Linked DNA regions of Homo sapiens: region 2 is linked to region 1. Evidence: fine-mapped expression QTL. Tissue or cell type: whole blood. Region 1 holds a variant in brackets; the other region holds the start of a gene. All regions are shown on one strand. Distances are between the middles of the regions.

What was found. PIP is the estimated chance that this variant, and not a neighbour inherited with it, causes the effect.
Region 2: PGM5 starts here. The variant in region 1 is fine-mapped to the expression of PGM5 in whole blood (INTERVAL, PIP 0.98).

What each region holds. Positions count from the first base shown.
Region 1 is chr9:68,377,573-68,385,757 of GRCh38, reverse strand. PGM5 (phosphoglucomutase 5) reads right to left here. Exons shown (of 11, transcript NM_021965.4): 2 at 7,397-7,559; 3 at 1,214-1,360. Among named protein-coding and RNA genes, the nearest start is that of PGM5-AS1, 24 kb to the right of the region's middle. The variant A/C (reference allele first, on the strand shown) is at 4,674.
Region 2 is chr9:68,352,532-68,360,716 of GRCh38, reverse strand. It overlaps PGM5 (phosphoglucomutase 5), which reads right to left and starts at 4,106. Exons shown (of 11, transcript NM_021965.4): 1 at 3,329-4,106. The coding sequence starts at 3,589. PGM5-AS1 (PGM5 antisense RNA 1) reads left to right here and starts at 2,851. Exons shown (of 3, transcript NR_121192.1): 1 at 2,851-2,994; 2 at 4,371-4,427; 3 at 5,112-5,553.

The sequences.
Region 1 (8,185 bases):
ACAACTATAAAAATTGTGAAGATGCCAAAAATAAGCCTAGTCCTTCCAACCATATGTAATCAGCATATTGAAATCATTTTGCTTAATATAATGTACCCCTTGCCTTTAATTGTCCAGCCATCCCATGCATGTGCACACATATGCCTATGCATTCTCCCAGCTAGATTAGCAAAAGCAGGCACTGTTGCTTCCAGTGAGTATCATGGCTCTCTGTAAATTTCTGCTCATTACCTAAGCAAACAACTGACTCAAAACTTCTCAAGAAAGATTTGGTAACATTGGGCAAATACTGTGACCCCCCACACAATCCATTTTAATCTTTTCTCTATCCCTAAAATATCACATGGACACAAACCAGGTATTTCCTCTTTTGGGCTAAGTTAAATTACTTCTAAAATGAGGATACCATCTTAACACAAACTGCATTCAAGCTTATAGAAGCACTAAAAAAGTAAAACATGTTAGATCTATTGCTATTCTATGCCTTCTAGGAAAAAGCAATATGATAAAATACAGGGGGAAAATGTATACATACATGTTATTAATGTTGTTGTCATATGGTCTAAAATTAATCTATAAAACAAAAAGCTATCTTCTGAATACTGTAGAAGTTATATTTGCTTTACAATATAAGATAATATTTTTGACAATCTCATTTTGGTTCTTTAATTTTTGAATCACTTGCCTAAATATATTTGATAGTTACTGAATTCCTTTGTAAAATCTCCTAACACGGTGCTTGGTATAGGGCAGGTGATCAATAATTATGCATTCAATAAGCTGATGCATAATTATTCCAAGCTTGGTTATGGCTTGGAAAAGAAACTCCTACCTTTCATGAGAAATTTAATAACCCATTGACTTGTTAGGTTTCTTCTTAACTAAGGCATTCCAGCATCTTCACCTTAATTGCTTAGACAAGTTTTGGCAATTCACAGCCTATTTTTGGAATGCTATAATGAAGTCAACCATAAAACTTTTCCTATGTTGAAAATGATATCGAGTTTGGGAAGTGGTTTTTGAAAGTTTCCAGTTCTGAATATCTTGGCTGCTCTCATGTCTTCTCTCTACACCATATTAAGTTTACACACATTTATCGAGTCACCCCTGAGATTAACAATGCAATAATTTTCATGAGTTTACTTCCCTACAGAAACCAGTCAGCCCCATCCACATAGTTACTCTGACTTCTTCAAAATAAAATCTCTGTTACCTCTGAATGGTTTGAATTTGTTTTCTAGGTCAAATTCTTGTCTTCCTAGTCGAGATAGGTCGATTCGGAGATCAGGACATATAGCATATTCCTCAATCGTTTTGCTGATTTGGTAGATTTTGTCTGAGACAACATCGGGTGCAGGACCTAAAATGTGAACACCAAAAATACATGTTTTTGAAAGTCTCGTGAGTTTCAAGCAGTGAAATGTTACCATCCTCCTCCACCAGGCAGAAAAAGATTCATTTGTTCTCTAAACAATGATCAATGGTTCACAGTTCAATTAGCCTTGATATTTCTTATACTGTACTCATCCACTATGGGGGAAATTTGATCAGCCTCACCTGTTCTATGTAGACTAACAACCCATATGTTTGTTTGTTTGTTTTAATCCACTTCTAAGCAATGACACATCTTTCCTAAAAATAGTTTCACACCTGCCAGGGAAACCTGGTTACGTAATCAGCTTTATTCAGGTTATGAGACACAAACAGGATATGCATTTGACAGAAGTGAGGGATTCCAGATTTACATGCAGCTTCCCCAGTGCATCTAGAAGAGGAGACTATGCTTTCTATTCCCAGCTCTGCTACCTAATTGATGTGTGAGCTTAGCAGGGTAAGTTAATTATTTTCCCCAACTCACAATCTCTAGTCACTTCCAAAATGAAGCTCAACTAAAAATATGTGATGCATTTCCTCGGAAGACCAAATTGACAAGTAGTATTAGACTTTAAATAAATTGAACATGAAATCAATACTTGTTCACCTTTTGGGGTTTTGCTTTTTTTTTTTTTTTTTTTTTACCTTGTATATCTTAATGCAAGCCATTTCAGATTTTTTTTTTTTTTGCAACAAGGTTGAGAAACAAATAAGTAGATTGAAAGATCTAAAGTATAAATGATCGCTAGATGTATAGATAGCTTTCTGTATGAATCTTACTTGTCAACTATACTGTAACTTTCTACTGAACAAAAATTGTTTCTTGATTTTTAAAATATCTCAATCCTTAGAACTGCATTGTCCAATACAATAGTTACTTGTCACATTTAGCTGTTGAGCACTTAAAATGTGGCTAGTCAAGTTGAGGTGTGCTGCAATTGTAAATGCACACCAAATTTTGAAGAGTTAGTAGAAAATGCAATCGATTGCATTAATAATTTTTATATTGATGACATGGTATAATAATATTTTAGATATAGTAGTTTAAATAAAACACAATGTGAATTTCACTTGTTTCTTTTCACTTTTTTAATGTGGCTACTAAAAATGTAAAGTATGTATGTGACTCACAATATTTTTCTGTTGGACAACGCTGCCTTAGAGTGTAGCACCATCACCGTATTCCAATACATGCTCATAAAAAAGAATAGCAATAGTCCTATTCTAGTAAGTGGGAGAGAAGACAGCCCAGAAGATTTTACCAACAATTTTCTTGTTGTGTGGGAAAAGTGAAGTCCTCAAAGAAATAAACATAGCCCTTTTCTTCACTCCTTACCATTTTTTACCCTTCACAAAACTTAAAGAATAGGTAGTCTTGTTTCGTTTTTGCATTATTTTATGCTTGCCAGATTATAGAATGCATGAATATCTCCCTCCACTCCCTACACCCCAGGCACCATACTATATTCTTTGGCTGTGTCCATCATTTTCAAGTCCCTGAGTTTTAATGCCAAAGCACACTGATTTCCAAAAGTAAAGAAAGTACTGTCTCTCTAGATAGTTGTCTATGATGCCATTCAACCATCCATGCTGATAACTTCAGAGTTCATCAACAACTTCTGAATTCCTTTTCAATTTCCAAGCTCCCTGATATCTTCCACTCCAATGACTTTCACCATATGCACACCAAAAATATGTACAATTATAATATATATTAAAATAATTGTTTTTTAAAGGATACGGCAAATCTACAGGCACTCATATAAAAATAAATTTTAAGATGCTAAAAAAGAATACCCAGAGATTTTAAAGTGCATAAAATAAATAAATGAAAAATGGAAAAGCTAAAAAGCTTTTTAGTTTGAGGTAGTCCCATTTATTTGTTTTTGCTTTTGTAGCCTGAGCTTTTGATGTGATATCCAAGAAATCATTGCCAAGGCCAATGTCAAATAACTTTTTCCCTATGTTCTCTTCTAGGATTTTTATGGTTTCAGATCTTATATTTAGTTCTTTATTCATTTTATTTCTGTGTATAGTGTAAGATAAGGGTCCAATTTCATTCTTTTACATTTTTGTTTTCCCAGGCACCATTTATTGAAGAGGTTTTTTTCTTTCTCCATTATGTCCTCTTGGTGCCCTGGTCCAAAATTACTTGACTATATATGCCTTGATTTATTTCTGGGCTCTCTATTCTGTTCCCTTGGTCTATGTTTCTGTTTTTATGCCAGTATCATACTGTTTTGGTTTTACTTTAGCTTTGTAATATAATTTTAAATCAGCAAGTGTGGTACCTCCAACTTTTTTTTCCTCAACATTGCTTTGGTTTTTGGGGGCTCCAAACAAATTTTAGTATTGCTTTTCTATTTCCATGAAGAATGTTATTGAAATTTTGATAGGGGTTGTGTTAAATCTGTATATTGTTTTTGGTAGTATGAATGTTTTAATAATATTAATGTTTTTGATCCATGATCAGTGAGCACAGGATATCTATTTATTTGTGTCTTATTCAATCAATGTTTTATAGTTTTCAGTATACTTTCACCCCTTGGTTAAATTTATTCCTAAGTATTTTTTTGATGCTATCATAAATGGCATTGTTTTCTTGATTATTTTCAGCTGGGTCATTATTTATGTATAGAAATGCTACTGATGTTTGTATGTTGATTTTGTATCCTGCAATTTACTGAATTCATTTATTAGTTCTAAAAATTTGTGTGTGTGTTTGTGTGTGTGTGTGTGTGTGCATGTGTAGAATCTTTAGAATTCTCTATATATAGGATCATATCATCTGTAAATAGAGATTATTTTACTTTCTCCTTTCCAATTTGGATGACTTTTATTTATTTTTCTTGTCTGATTGCTCTTGCTAGTACTTCCAAAACTATGTTGAATAGAAATAGCAAGAGTGGGCATCCCTGCCATGTACTAAATTGTGGAAAAGTTTTCAGTTGTCCCCAATTGATTATGATGTTAGCTGTGGGTTTCTTATAAACGACCTTTATTATGTTGAGAAACTTTCCTTCTATACCTAAAGTGTTAAGAGTTTTTGTTAAGAAAGAATGCTGAACTTTCTAAAATGCCTTTCCTGCACCAGTTGAGATGATCATGTGGTTTTTATCTTTCATTCTGTTTAGCCAGTCTTGCATGTCAGGGATAAATCCCACTTGGCCATGATTCATAATTTCTTTAATGTGTTGTTGAATTTGGTTTTCGTCAATATTTATCAGAGATATTGGCCTGTGGTTTTATTTTCTTACAATATGTTTGTCTGGCTTTAGGTATCAAGGTGATGCTGGCCT[A/C]ACAAAATGTGTTTGGAAGTATTCCCTGTAGCTCTAATTTTTGGAAGAGTCTAAGAAGTGTTGGTAATAATTATTCTTTGAATGTTTGATAAAATTCAGCCATGAAGCCGTTTGGTCCTAGGCTTTTCTATTTTGGAAAGTTTTTAATCACTTCTTCAATTTCTTTATTTGTTGTTGGAGTGTTCAAACTTTTTGTTTCTTCCCAATTCAATCTTGTTGGGTTAGTTTTTCTAGAAATTTATCCATTTCTTCTAGGTCCTCCAATTTGTTGGCATAAAATTGTTCATAATAATCCCTTATGACCATTTTTATTTCTGAGGTATCTATTGCAATGTCTCCACTTTCATTTCTGATTTTATTTATTTGAGTCTGCTTTTTTTAGTGAATCTAGCTAAGAGTTTGTAGATTTTATTTTTTCAAAGAACCAACTTTTGATTTTATTTATATTTTCTATAGTTTTTCTATACTACATTTTATTTGCTTCTGTTCTGATCTTCATTATTTCCTTCCTTTTGCTCACTTTGGGTTTAGTTTGTTCTTTCTTTAGCTCCTTGGGGCATAATGTTAGTCTACTTATTTAGATCTTTTTCCTTTTTTAATGTAGGCATTTATTGCTATAAACTTCTCTCTTAGAACTGACTTTGCCGCATACTGTAGGTTTTGATACATTGTGTTTCCATTGTCATTAATCTCAAAGTATTTTTTAATTTCCCTGTTGATTTCTTCTTTGACCCATTAGTTCATCATAAGCATGTTGTTTAATTTCCACATATTTGTAAATTTTCCAAGATTCCTCTTGTTATTGATTTTTAGCTTCACACCATTGTGGTTGGAAACAATACTAGACATGATTTCAATCTTTTTGAATTTGTTAAGGTTTATTTTGTGGCCTAACATATGGTCTATCCTGGAGAATGTTCTATGTATGCTAGAGAAGAATGTATATTCTGCTGTTGTTGGATGAATGTAGGTTTGGTAGGTCCATTTGGTCTGAAGTATAGTTCAAATTTAGTGTTGTCTTGTTAATTTTTTGTCTGGTTGATCTCTCCATTGTTGCAAGTGGAGTACTGAAGTCCCCTATTAGTGTTATATTGCTGTATATTTCTTCCTTCATGTCCACTAATATTTGCTTTACATATTTAAGTGCTTCAATGTTGGATGCATATATGTTTACAATTGTTATGTCCTCTTGATAAGATGACCTCTTTATCATTAAATCATGACCTTCTTTGTCTCTTGGAACAGCTTTTTACTGGAAGTCTGTTTTATCTGATATAAGTATAGGCATCCCTGCTCTCTTTTGGTAACTGTTTTCATGGCATATCTCCTTCTATCCCTTTACTTTCAATATATGCCTATTCTTAAAGTTTAAAAATGGGTCTCTTGTAGGCAGCATCTAGTTGGATCTTGTTGTTGATCCACTCAGCCATTCTGTATCTTTTGATTGGAGAGTTTAACCCATGTACCAGCAAGGTTATTATTGATAGTAAAAGACTTACTCCTGCCATTTTGCTAATTGTTTTCTGGTTACTTTGTAGATAATTTGTTCTCTTCTTCCTCTATTGTTGTCTACCTTTGTAGTTTGGTGGTTTAGTTTTCTGCTTTGTGGTTACAATATTGTTTTTTAAATATTCAACATGAATACACTTTCTTGTTTGGATAACGTGTAAAACGTCTGCAAGGAGGGATAGATAATAAGTTTTCCCTTCAGACTGCACTGCTTTGCCTGGGATGAGGAATAATTTATAATGGTAACTGTTGCTGGTTAAAATTTGGCTCCTACCCACATTCATGCAAACTCAGTGTTCTAGATTAAAAGAGATTTAAGAGACTTGCCAAGCAAATGCATGGCATCCTTAGATGTATCCTGATTTGAATAAAACAGCTATAAATAATAATATTTTGGGGATTATTGAAAAATTTGACTATAGATTAGTTTTCAGGTGATATTGGAGAATTAATGTTATTATTGTTAGGTATGTTAGCACAGTCATGCAGCAATGTGTCTTTCTTTTTTAGAGATGCATACAAAAATATTTGGGTGTGAAATGTTCTCGTGCTATAATTTGCTTTAAAATTCTTCAGAAAAAAAGATAAGCAAAATAGAAAAACAAGATAATGGGTACATGTTATCTATTTCTTATTCTCCCTATTTTTTTGTGTGTTCAATTTTAAAAGAAATTTACTCCATACATATATCCCACCCCCTCCACTAAGGACCCCCAAACTATAGATTGCTGTGAATATAAGAAAAAGTGAAACAATTCTATGATTTTGAGAGAAAGTCAACACTGTAGGAAAAAGAGAGGCCAGGATTTGGGCTAAAAATCATTAATCTGACCCTGATCAACCCTGTGGCCTTCAGCAGTAACTCAGCCTCTCAGGCCTTTGATTTGTTCATGTGTAAAATGAGGGTCATTTTCATTTAGACAACGACCTTCAGGGTATGTTTTAATGTTAAAATTCAGAGTCCTTCCATATCAGATAAGCATCAACTATTCAATAGTTTATGCTGAAGAGTACAGGGGACCAAGAGACCACCCAAATGGGTTCATGAGCCCATCATGCCACTTCTTTGTTGGATCTCTTTGGGCACCTCACTGAATTTTTCTGAGCTAGGTCCTCTGCACCTTGCTTGTCTATCATCAAAGAGTCACTGTGAGACTATAATAATATAAGAGGAAAGAAATCGTAATTATTAAGGCATATGCTGAACCACATACCTCCATTGGCAACATTAAACTTCACTCCAAACTCTCCCCCTGGTCCTCCAGGGCAGTGGCTGGCTGTTAGAATGATTCCACCAGCTGCCTTGATCTTCCTGATAATGCAGGAGACCGCAGGTGTCGACAAGATGCCATTCTGTCCAATAATCAGTCGTCCAATCTAAACCATCCAAAAAAAAAAATCAATCCAGTTCCTTGGGATTAAAGCCATTTCAACAGGAAAGTGCCCCAGGCTCTGTTAACATACAGCCAATAACTTGATAAAAGAAACAGAGTAGGCTTTAGATTAGGGGAGGCAGGGTAGGGGGAGCACTGACATTGTCTCTCCTATCTAATGTCTCTAAGACCATTTGGTGCACCTGCATCTAGTAGTCAATTATTAACCTGTAAATAGGATATGCCTCATTGATCTTCAGTAGTTTGAAACATCTGCTTCTGATAATCGAGGGGTTAGCTTGAATCACACAAGAAGTTCTTAGTTTGCTACTGACTCAGAAACTATGCATGTGGACATGCTAGAGATTACAAGAAAAAAGAAATGGAGTGCTTCTCTGCTTCTTCTGCTTCCTGTAACTTAGAACAAGCTCAGAGAGCAAGGGGACTGATTTAGTACAACCTCATCACCTGTGGGCATATTTTAACTGTAATCTTCAGGAATGACTTTTCTCCTGAAAGTAGGAATTCTCTTTCTGCTGTTAAGTGACAGCATGTGCTGGAGACATTGGAGAAATTACCCAGTCATGCTAAGCAGAGATCTGGAGGTCATTCATGGATGCAGCCAGATTC
Region 2 (8,185 bases), 25 kb after region 1:
AATATAGGAAAATGTTTACAATCTATGTTCTATGTTTGCCTATGAGTGCCATTAATCTCATCTCTCTGCTTTTCTGAAAGTTTGAAAATTTCAAAGTTTTATAATAAATTTTTTTACATCCCATAATTTTATAATAAATTTTTTAAAGTTTGAAGCAAATCAACAACTATAGCTTCAAAAATATCCTGACCCACAATAAACATTGAACAGGGTATATTTCTCCCATTTCCTAAAAAAGTTGGCCCAGGAAGGAGTATGAGAGCTGCCATAGCTCTCCCAAGGCTCATTATTCTCCATCACTCCATGGGAAATCCCAAAATAAATTTTTAAAAAAGTTGTTTAAATTTATAATGTTTTTGATTCTATAATAATTTTATAATAAAATAATTTTATGTTTTTGATATTATATTTTTAATTTATAAAATTTTTTATACATGTTTATGTTTGAAATGTCTATTTCAAACTTTATGAGATATTAAAATATAAGTAATATAGTTCATCATTTTAGAAATGCCATGTTTTTCTTCTCCAGCAATTACATAATCAAAGAGTAACTGTAGTTTTTCCTAGAACATTGCTTTGTAGGCTGGGCATGGTGGTTCATGACACTTTAGGAGGCCAAGGCAGGCAGATCTCTTGAGATCAGGAGTTTGAGACTAGACTGGGCAACACAGAGAAACCCTATGAGTAGTAAAAACACAAAAATCAGCTGTGCATAGTGGCATGCACCTATAGCCCCAGCTACTCAGGAGGCTGAGGTGGGAAGATCACCTGAATCTGGGGAGGTCAAGGCTACAGTGAGCCAAGACTGTGCCATTGCACTCCAGCCTGGGCAACAAAGTGAGACCCAGTCTCAAAAAAAATGAAATTTAATTTAAAAAAAGAAAATTGCTTTGTAAAATTAACTTTTTCAATCAAAACCAAGATTTTTCAGATATAGAGAATGCAGCCCACTGGTTAGATTTGTCAGTTCAAAGAGAATAAATTCTAGTTTTCTATTTTTCTAGCCTGCTTATGAGTATCCAATAGGATATCAAAAAAGACCAAAGCCTTTGGGATCCAAGTTCAGTATTCCTGAGTCTAATTCAGGATGCCAAATCAGGAGACAAGCACATTCTCATCAATTTTCAATCATTCAAGACCAATTTTGCTTATAATTATCCAGTTCTTTTAGACCACCTTTCTCCTGAAGCCAGCCTTATGGCTATTCACTTCACTTTAGCATAAGCCCCCAAGAAGGTGAACAAAATGAGGAAAAGATTGGTTAAAGTTGGCTGTTTGAAATTCTGAAACATGTCCACCATTCCCTTCACCCATGCCCACCCCTCTTAGAAGTAGTACTTTCAGATTATTTAAGAGTCGATGCTTCTATGTGGATTTTAATTTGTCATCTGTCCTTTATAACAGCTAGTAGGTTTAATTTGACCCTATTTTAAGCATATATTGACCTATGCTAATTATCTGTTAAAATAAATTCCACTCTTAGAGTTAATAAAGTGTGTTTGTCATAGAAGACCCATTGAAGTAAGAAGCTGAGGAGTCCTTATGGTAAAGTGGGACAAGAAATAATAAGACATAATAATTTTCCCATGCAAATCAACAACCGTAGCTTCAAAAATATCCTGACCCACAACAAGTATTGGACAGGCCATGTTTCTCTCACTCCCTAAAAAATTGGCTCGGGAAGAAGTATGAGAGCTCCCATAGCTCTCCCAAGGCTCGTTATTCTCCATCACTCCACAGGAACAGCCTGTCAGAGAAGAGTGAAAGACCATTTGTCAACCTCTCTTCAACTCCCTGATTCTAGCCAAACTTCATCAATCCCAAGTGAGGAGCCAGAGATAAATCAAACCCCATATATCCAGCATCATTGTCTACTGGAGTCAAAAATCACAATTCCACTACCCACCCCAACACCACTGGCCCTGTTTCTCCCAATTGCGTTTTATTATGTTTTTAAAAAAATCCTCTTTCCCCATCCCTGCAACACCGAGAAGGAGGAATTATAGTAGATAAATATGAAGCATGGAGATCCTTTAAAAATGTTTTTAATAATAAATGAGAAAATGAAAAGGAGAGGGTTGGGAAGGAAGGAGGGAATTCAAATGCCAGGGAATTGTTCAGTTTCGCTTTTAAAGATGTTAACACTCATTTATACATCTGCAAGACACTTTCCTTAAAGAAAAGTTCTATGAGTGTGGGTCTGGTTGCATGAATAAGGATAAAATTACTTTTTTAGACGATGTTTCCCACATATAATTCAGAGACCCCTGAAATTAGGTATCCCTCTTGTAGATGTCCTTGAGATGCTGCTGGACCTGGGAAAGAGGAAACTGGGATATGGGTCTATGCCAAAAGGTGCTTCTAGTTATAGGACAGAGAGGAAAGGGGCAGAGGGAGAAAAACCTGAAGTCTGAGAATCTGGATTGCAGAAGACTACCGAGGTCGTGGGAGAAGGGAGAGAAAACAAGGATGAAAACCGAAAGGGGAAGAGGCATGAAATGTTGTCAAATGCCAAAAGGCATTTGGAGAGAAGTTGGGAATTGCATTAAGAAAACCACTGCAAATCTCATTTCAGACCATTTAGAGATATGCCCCCTGGGAACTGCGAGCTCAGGCTGTTTAGCATCAAACAAATGGATCCACTCCATCCCTACCCTAATTAAATAAATCATTCAGTAATTCCACTGGGTTAAAGAACCAAAATAATAAAAACCTTCAGGGCCTACTCTTGCCAAATATGTCAGGGATCGTGTGTGTGTGTGTGTGTGTGTGTGTGTGTGTGTGTGTGTGTGTGTGTGTGTTCTGAGACACCACTACTGTTAAATAGGCAGAGCTAAGACTTAGGGGACTGGCAGATTATTGCAAAAAGGGCACGGGGCAGAGGGACTATGTTGTGAGCCTGCGAAAGAAGTTTGTGTGGGGACTGTGGGCAGTGAATGCGTTGGGAACAATATGGAAAACTGGGAGCTGCCTTGGAATCTACAGGGCCGGGTAAGAGAATGTCCGAAAGAAAAATGAGCAGGTGCGGGATGTGCGCAGAGTCGGAGAAGAGTCCAGGGCGCCCGGAGTGGCTCCAGGAACGACGGAAACCCCTCAAGGCTTTTGGGGGCGGTGGGTACTAATAGAACCCAGTGTCCGGGGTGCACCGGGGAGGCTGCGAGCGCGGCGGGAGTGGGGCGCTGGAGGGTGAGGACGCGGGAGTGAGGTAGCAAAGCCGGGGCCGGGCAGGGGCCTCCCAACTGGGCCCGGAGGCAGCAGGGGGACAAGGGCTAGGAGAGGGCATGGCGGCGGCGCGGCGGGAAGCGAGGGGCATCCGGACACTCACCCCGTTGGCCGCGGCCATCTGCACCACGATCTCGATGGCCGTCCTGCTAAAGTACCTGCCGTCGCTGCCCACCACCATGGTGCAGCCCTGACGGTCGCGCAGGTCGATGGACGACAGCACGCTCTGGATAAAGTTGGGCAGGTAGTTGCGCTGGCCCTCGAAGAGGCCGGTGGGTCGCCGCAGACCCCCGCCGCCGGCCGGCCGCTGGTCCTCGTAGGGCGCGGTGGGCACTGTCAGCACCGGGATGGGGCTCCCCTCCATGGCGCCTCCTGGCCGGTCCTGCTGCGGCTCCCGGAGCCGGAGGGAATCTGCAGCCTGCCGGGGGCCTCCACCAGCCTGGCTGCGCGCCGGGACTCCGCCTCGCGCCCGGGCCCCCTCTCCAGCAGGTCGGCGCCCTGCGCCCTGCACCCGCCCGCCTGGGGACCGCCCGCCCCTCCTCTCCGCGCGGCCGCTCGGCTGACTCTCTCGGCAGAGATTGCTTCTGCCTTCCTGTAAAGTTTTCTCCCACCCACCTTCTCCGCTGCCAGACCGCCCGAGCTGCCCTCAGTTTCTCCCCAAGTTGGACTCACTTTCGGGGTGTCCCAAAAGCCTGATTCCAGGGCCTGCTAGCCCGACCCCGGTGACGCCTCCACCCGCGCCTGGCCCCAGCCTTCACCCGCGATCGCCGCCCTCCGGGGCACACCCTCCGCCAGAAAACAGCCGGCGGGCGGCGAGACTTTGGGCAGAGTCCGGGTTCCTCTCCGGCGCCCGGCCCGTCTCCCTGTCTCCCTGGGAGTGCGCAGCCTACACACACCAGTTTCTCTTTAGAACAAGGACGGGGAGGGATTTGGGAGGGGGCTGAAACCTTTTGCCATCAGCGAACAGCCTCAGCCAAAAATAACCCTGGAAAGGCGAGCTAAGAATGGTTATCTCCTGCCAGCGCTGAAATCGGAGGCTGGGCGCTGCGTGTGGGGTGTGTGTGTGTGTGTGTGTGTGTGTGTGTACCCTCCCACCCCGACCATTTGTTGAAGGGAATCACCACTGTCAGACTTCAATCCAACAGGACCCACTCGAGCCATCCACACTTTCCCCAGCCTCCTCCAAAACAGCACACTTTCCGGTATGGACAATTCTTTTTTTTTTTTTTTTTTTTTTTCACTTGTTTGTTTGTTGTGGTGGTTGCAACAGCAGCAACACAGACGACACATATTTCCCTATTCTTCTCGCCCTTCTCACCCTCCCTACCCAGCTCCTGCCTTAGAAATAGGCTTTCCTACACTGTATCTGTCCACACTGTCTGAACTCTTCCTTGAATTAATCGTTTTCAATAGGAGGGGGCTAAATCCCTTATTAATGCCCTACCAGGAGTGAATGAATAAAGCCAAGTTAAAGGAGACCTGGGTACCAGATACTGTGCTAGGTTCCTTTGCATGTATCCTTTCATTCTGCTGGAGCTAAAGATTTTCTGCCTCCTCTCCATAAAACGCACCCAAACTCCAAAACCAGGAAATTCTCCATAGAAAATAGGAGTGAAGAGAGAAAAGACTAACAGGATAAAACCCAAAGCAGGAAGAAAGTTCTATCTCCCATTTCTCTCAAGGAATTTTTGGACCCACCAAGGCTACTGTCCTGAAATATCCTGCTGCTTCTCCTTCCCCAAATATTGTCCACTTACTGAGAGTAAGGCTGACTTGCCGCAGGCTTATAAAGTGTTTGGTCACAGTAAGACAACTGTGAGTAATAACACACATTGTATACTGTTTTGCAATTGATTAAAGGCTTTGCATCTGTTTTTTCTTTGGAGGCTGAAGAAAAGAAGAATGGTATTCATGCAGTTCCCATTTTACAGATGAAAACAAGAGGACTTTTTCTGTGAAGTCAAGAAAGTGGTTACAATGGTACTTTCAGCCTGTCCGAATTATGTATTGCCCCTCCCCTTTTTATTAATAACATTGAAGTGTGATGGGACAACCACTGAAGCCGTCTGTTGAAACCTGCTGGGACTTTTTAGCCATTCTCTTCAACATAAAGAATGGGTGTTTTTGGAGGGGGTGAGAGGAATGGGGAAATGTTGTCAAAGAGTACAATGTTTTAGTTGAGACAGGAGGAATATATTTTGTTGAGATCTACAGCACAGCATGGTGACTGTAGTTAACAATGAAGTATTGTGTATTTCAAAATTGCTAAGACAATAAATTTCAAATGTTCTCACCACAAAAAAGATAGGTTTTGAGGTGATGAATCTATTAATTCTCTGGATTTAATTATTCCACAATGTATACATATATCATAACATCACATCATACCTCCGTAAATACATACAATTTTAATTTGTCAATTAACATTTTTTTAAAAGAATAGTGTGGCCAGTCGGGGAGGTAGTTTTTTTTTTTCCTCTAGTCTCTACTCAGTCTCCAAGATCCCATTTCCCATAAAGTTCCTGTCACCCAGGTGGAGTGCAGTGGCACAATCATGGCTCACTGCACCCTCTCCCTCTTGGGCTCAAGCGATCCTCCTGCCTACAGGTACATGCCACCACGCCCAGCTAATTTTTGTAGTTTTTGTAGACATGGGGTTTCACCATGTTGCCTAGGCTGGTCTCGAACTCCTCAGCTCAATCAATCTGCCCACTTTAGCCTCCCACAGTGCTGGGATTACAGGTGTGAGCCACCAAGCCCAACCCATAAAGTTCCTAACTTTTTATCTCCCTGGGAGTGCACAGCCTACACACACCAGTTTCTCTTTAGAACATACTTAAGAGTCTTGGCTTAGCATCCAACAGACAGAACTTTAACACTTCTAGGGATCTGTGCACCTGTCTATGGTGTGGGGTTTTTAAGATCTCTTTCTAATGACACTTTTTTTTGCAAAGCAGGACAGTTTCATTCCCAGAAGAGCAGGTATGGTAAATCCTTTGTTCCAGTAACGAAGACAATGATCCAAACCCTAAGCCTCAGAGAAGCCCAGAAACCCTCCAGGCCTCCATCTCTCTGCTCCTAGCACCTGCCTCTCTCTTGACATCAACATCATTCTCCCCTCTCACAGCCCAGCTCCTTCCACAGACCCAGGGATTAGGCACCAGCACCTCAGACTAGATTTTAGAGAATTACCATTCAAGAGGCAATCCTCTTCCCTTGGTTCCAATTTCAAGGTTCTCAAAGACTGGAACAGGGCTAGTTTGAGGCAATGTGCCCTACCACATAGCCAGAAAGAACCTTACAGTGACAAGGAAAACAAGTCTTCCAAAGTAAGGGGGTGCTGATCCCCAGAGGGAGGACAGATGGGCAACCAAACAGTAACCGGGCCACCACGTGCTTCACACTCACTGATCAAGGATTTCTAAAACCATTTGTCTTTTCTCTGAATTTATATAGGACTTTGTATCACTCATAAAGGAATGTCTTATAGGCTGATAACACCTTTCTATTCATGCTTATACCTAACATTTAGGCTAGGATAATTTCCTAACCTCAGTGTCCTCACTATAAAATGGGAATTATTATAATCCCTACCTCATAAATTGTTGGGAGGATTAAAATACTTAGTAAAGTGCCTGACTAATAGAAAGGCATTCAATAAATGTTAGCTATTCATGGTGTCATCATCATTATATTTACCATTATTACTAATCTCCTGTATTGCAAGAATTACAGTTTATATTTTTGTAGACCATCACTGTAGCTAAAGGGTCTTTGGGCCATAGGTGATATTCCATAAAGGTTGGTTAAATTGTTCTGTGGTTTTTGACTATGGAAACTCAGAACTCCCTCAAAATGTACAAAACAGATTTACCTGCTAAATAAATCTCTTCAAAGCTGACCCCAGGTTTAATTGAATTAATTCCAATGAATTTGTCACAATGATGGAGAAAGGAAACTTAGAGGGCCCCACAGTTGTTTGCTGGTAAAATGAGAAGTTTGGATTAGATCAATGTTTCCCAAAATATTTTCCTCAGAATGTTAGTGCCCCTCGAATCCTGCACAAAGCAAGAGTTTCATGACCAAGTAGCTTTTAAAACTCCTGTACACTCTACTCCCATTCTTCACAATGCACACTTTCATATTAAAAGTTCTGAGAGGTCCTCAACAGAAGACATCAATTAACTTTTTTTTTTTTTAAGACAGATTCTCACTCTGTCACCCACGCTGGAGTACAGTGGCCACCACTCCTGGCCTAAAAATTTTTTTTAACCTGGTGCTTCCCAATCTAAACTCACAGGGACCAGTTTTCTTAATGAAAGAGAATCAGACTAGCTTGTAACCATAGCTGGTGACATTCCCCTGCCCCATTCCTTGTATGTCCTCAGTGGACTAGGTCAGAAATAAATAAATTTTCCTGATTCTCAAGGGCTGGTCACTCCTTTGCACTGAGCTCAAAGCTTCTCTGTAGCATGGGTCACAATGAATGGTAGCCCTGATAGCCTAGAGTAGCCTTTCAGCCTTCTCTGAGCCTCTAAAGACTGAGGATTCTTGGCATGAAATAGGAGCAACTGATATATCCTTGCTTCCCCTGGGGACTCTCTTGCTCTCAAAAAGGCATCAGCCATCATCTCCATCTAGAGAATATACTAGCTGACTCAGTTTGACCAGCCTGTCCCAAAATGAGAATCTGGGTAAAATAAGTATTGAAACACTTCATTCCTTGTAGATTCACAAAACACATTAGCATATTAAAGACTATGAAGTTCTGCAGGAAAAAAAACCTATTTAACTTTAATCCAACATTGCCAAGTTTTATTTGACCATGGAAGATTTTTCCAAAACACTTACAAACAGATCAAGGACATTAATCTTTCATGAAACACTTTAGATCCCCAGGGTCCTCTCCAGCTACATCATTCTGTGATTTTCTTTTTTATTTATGATGCATTAAAAGATT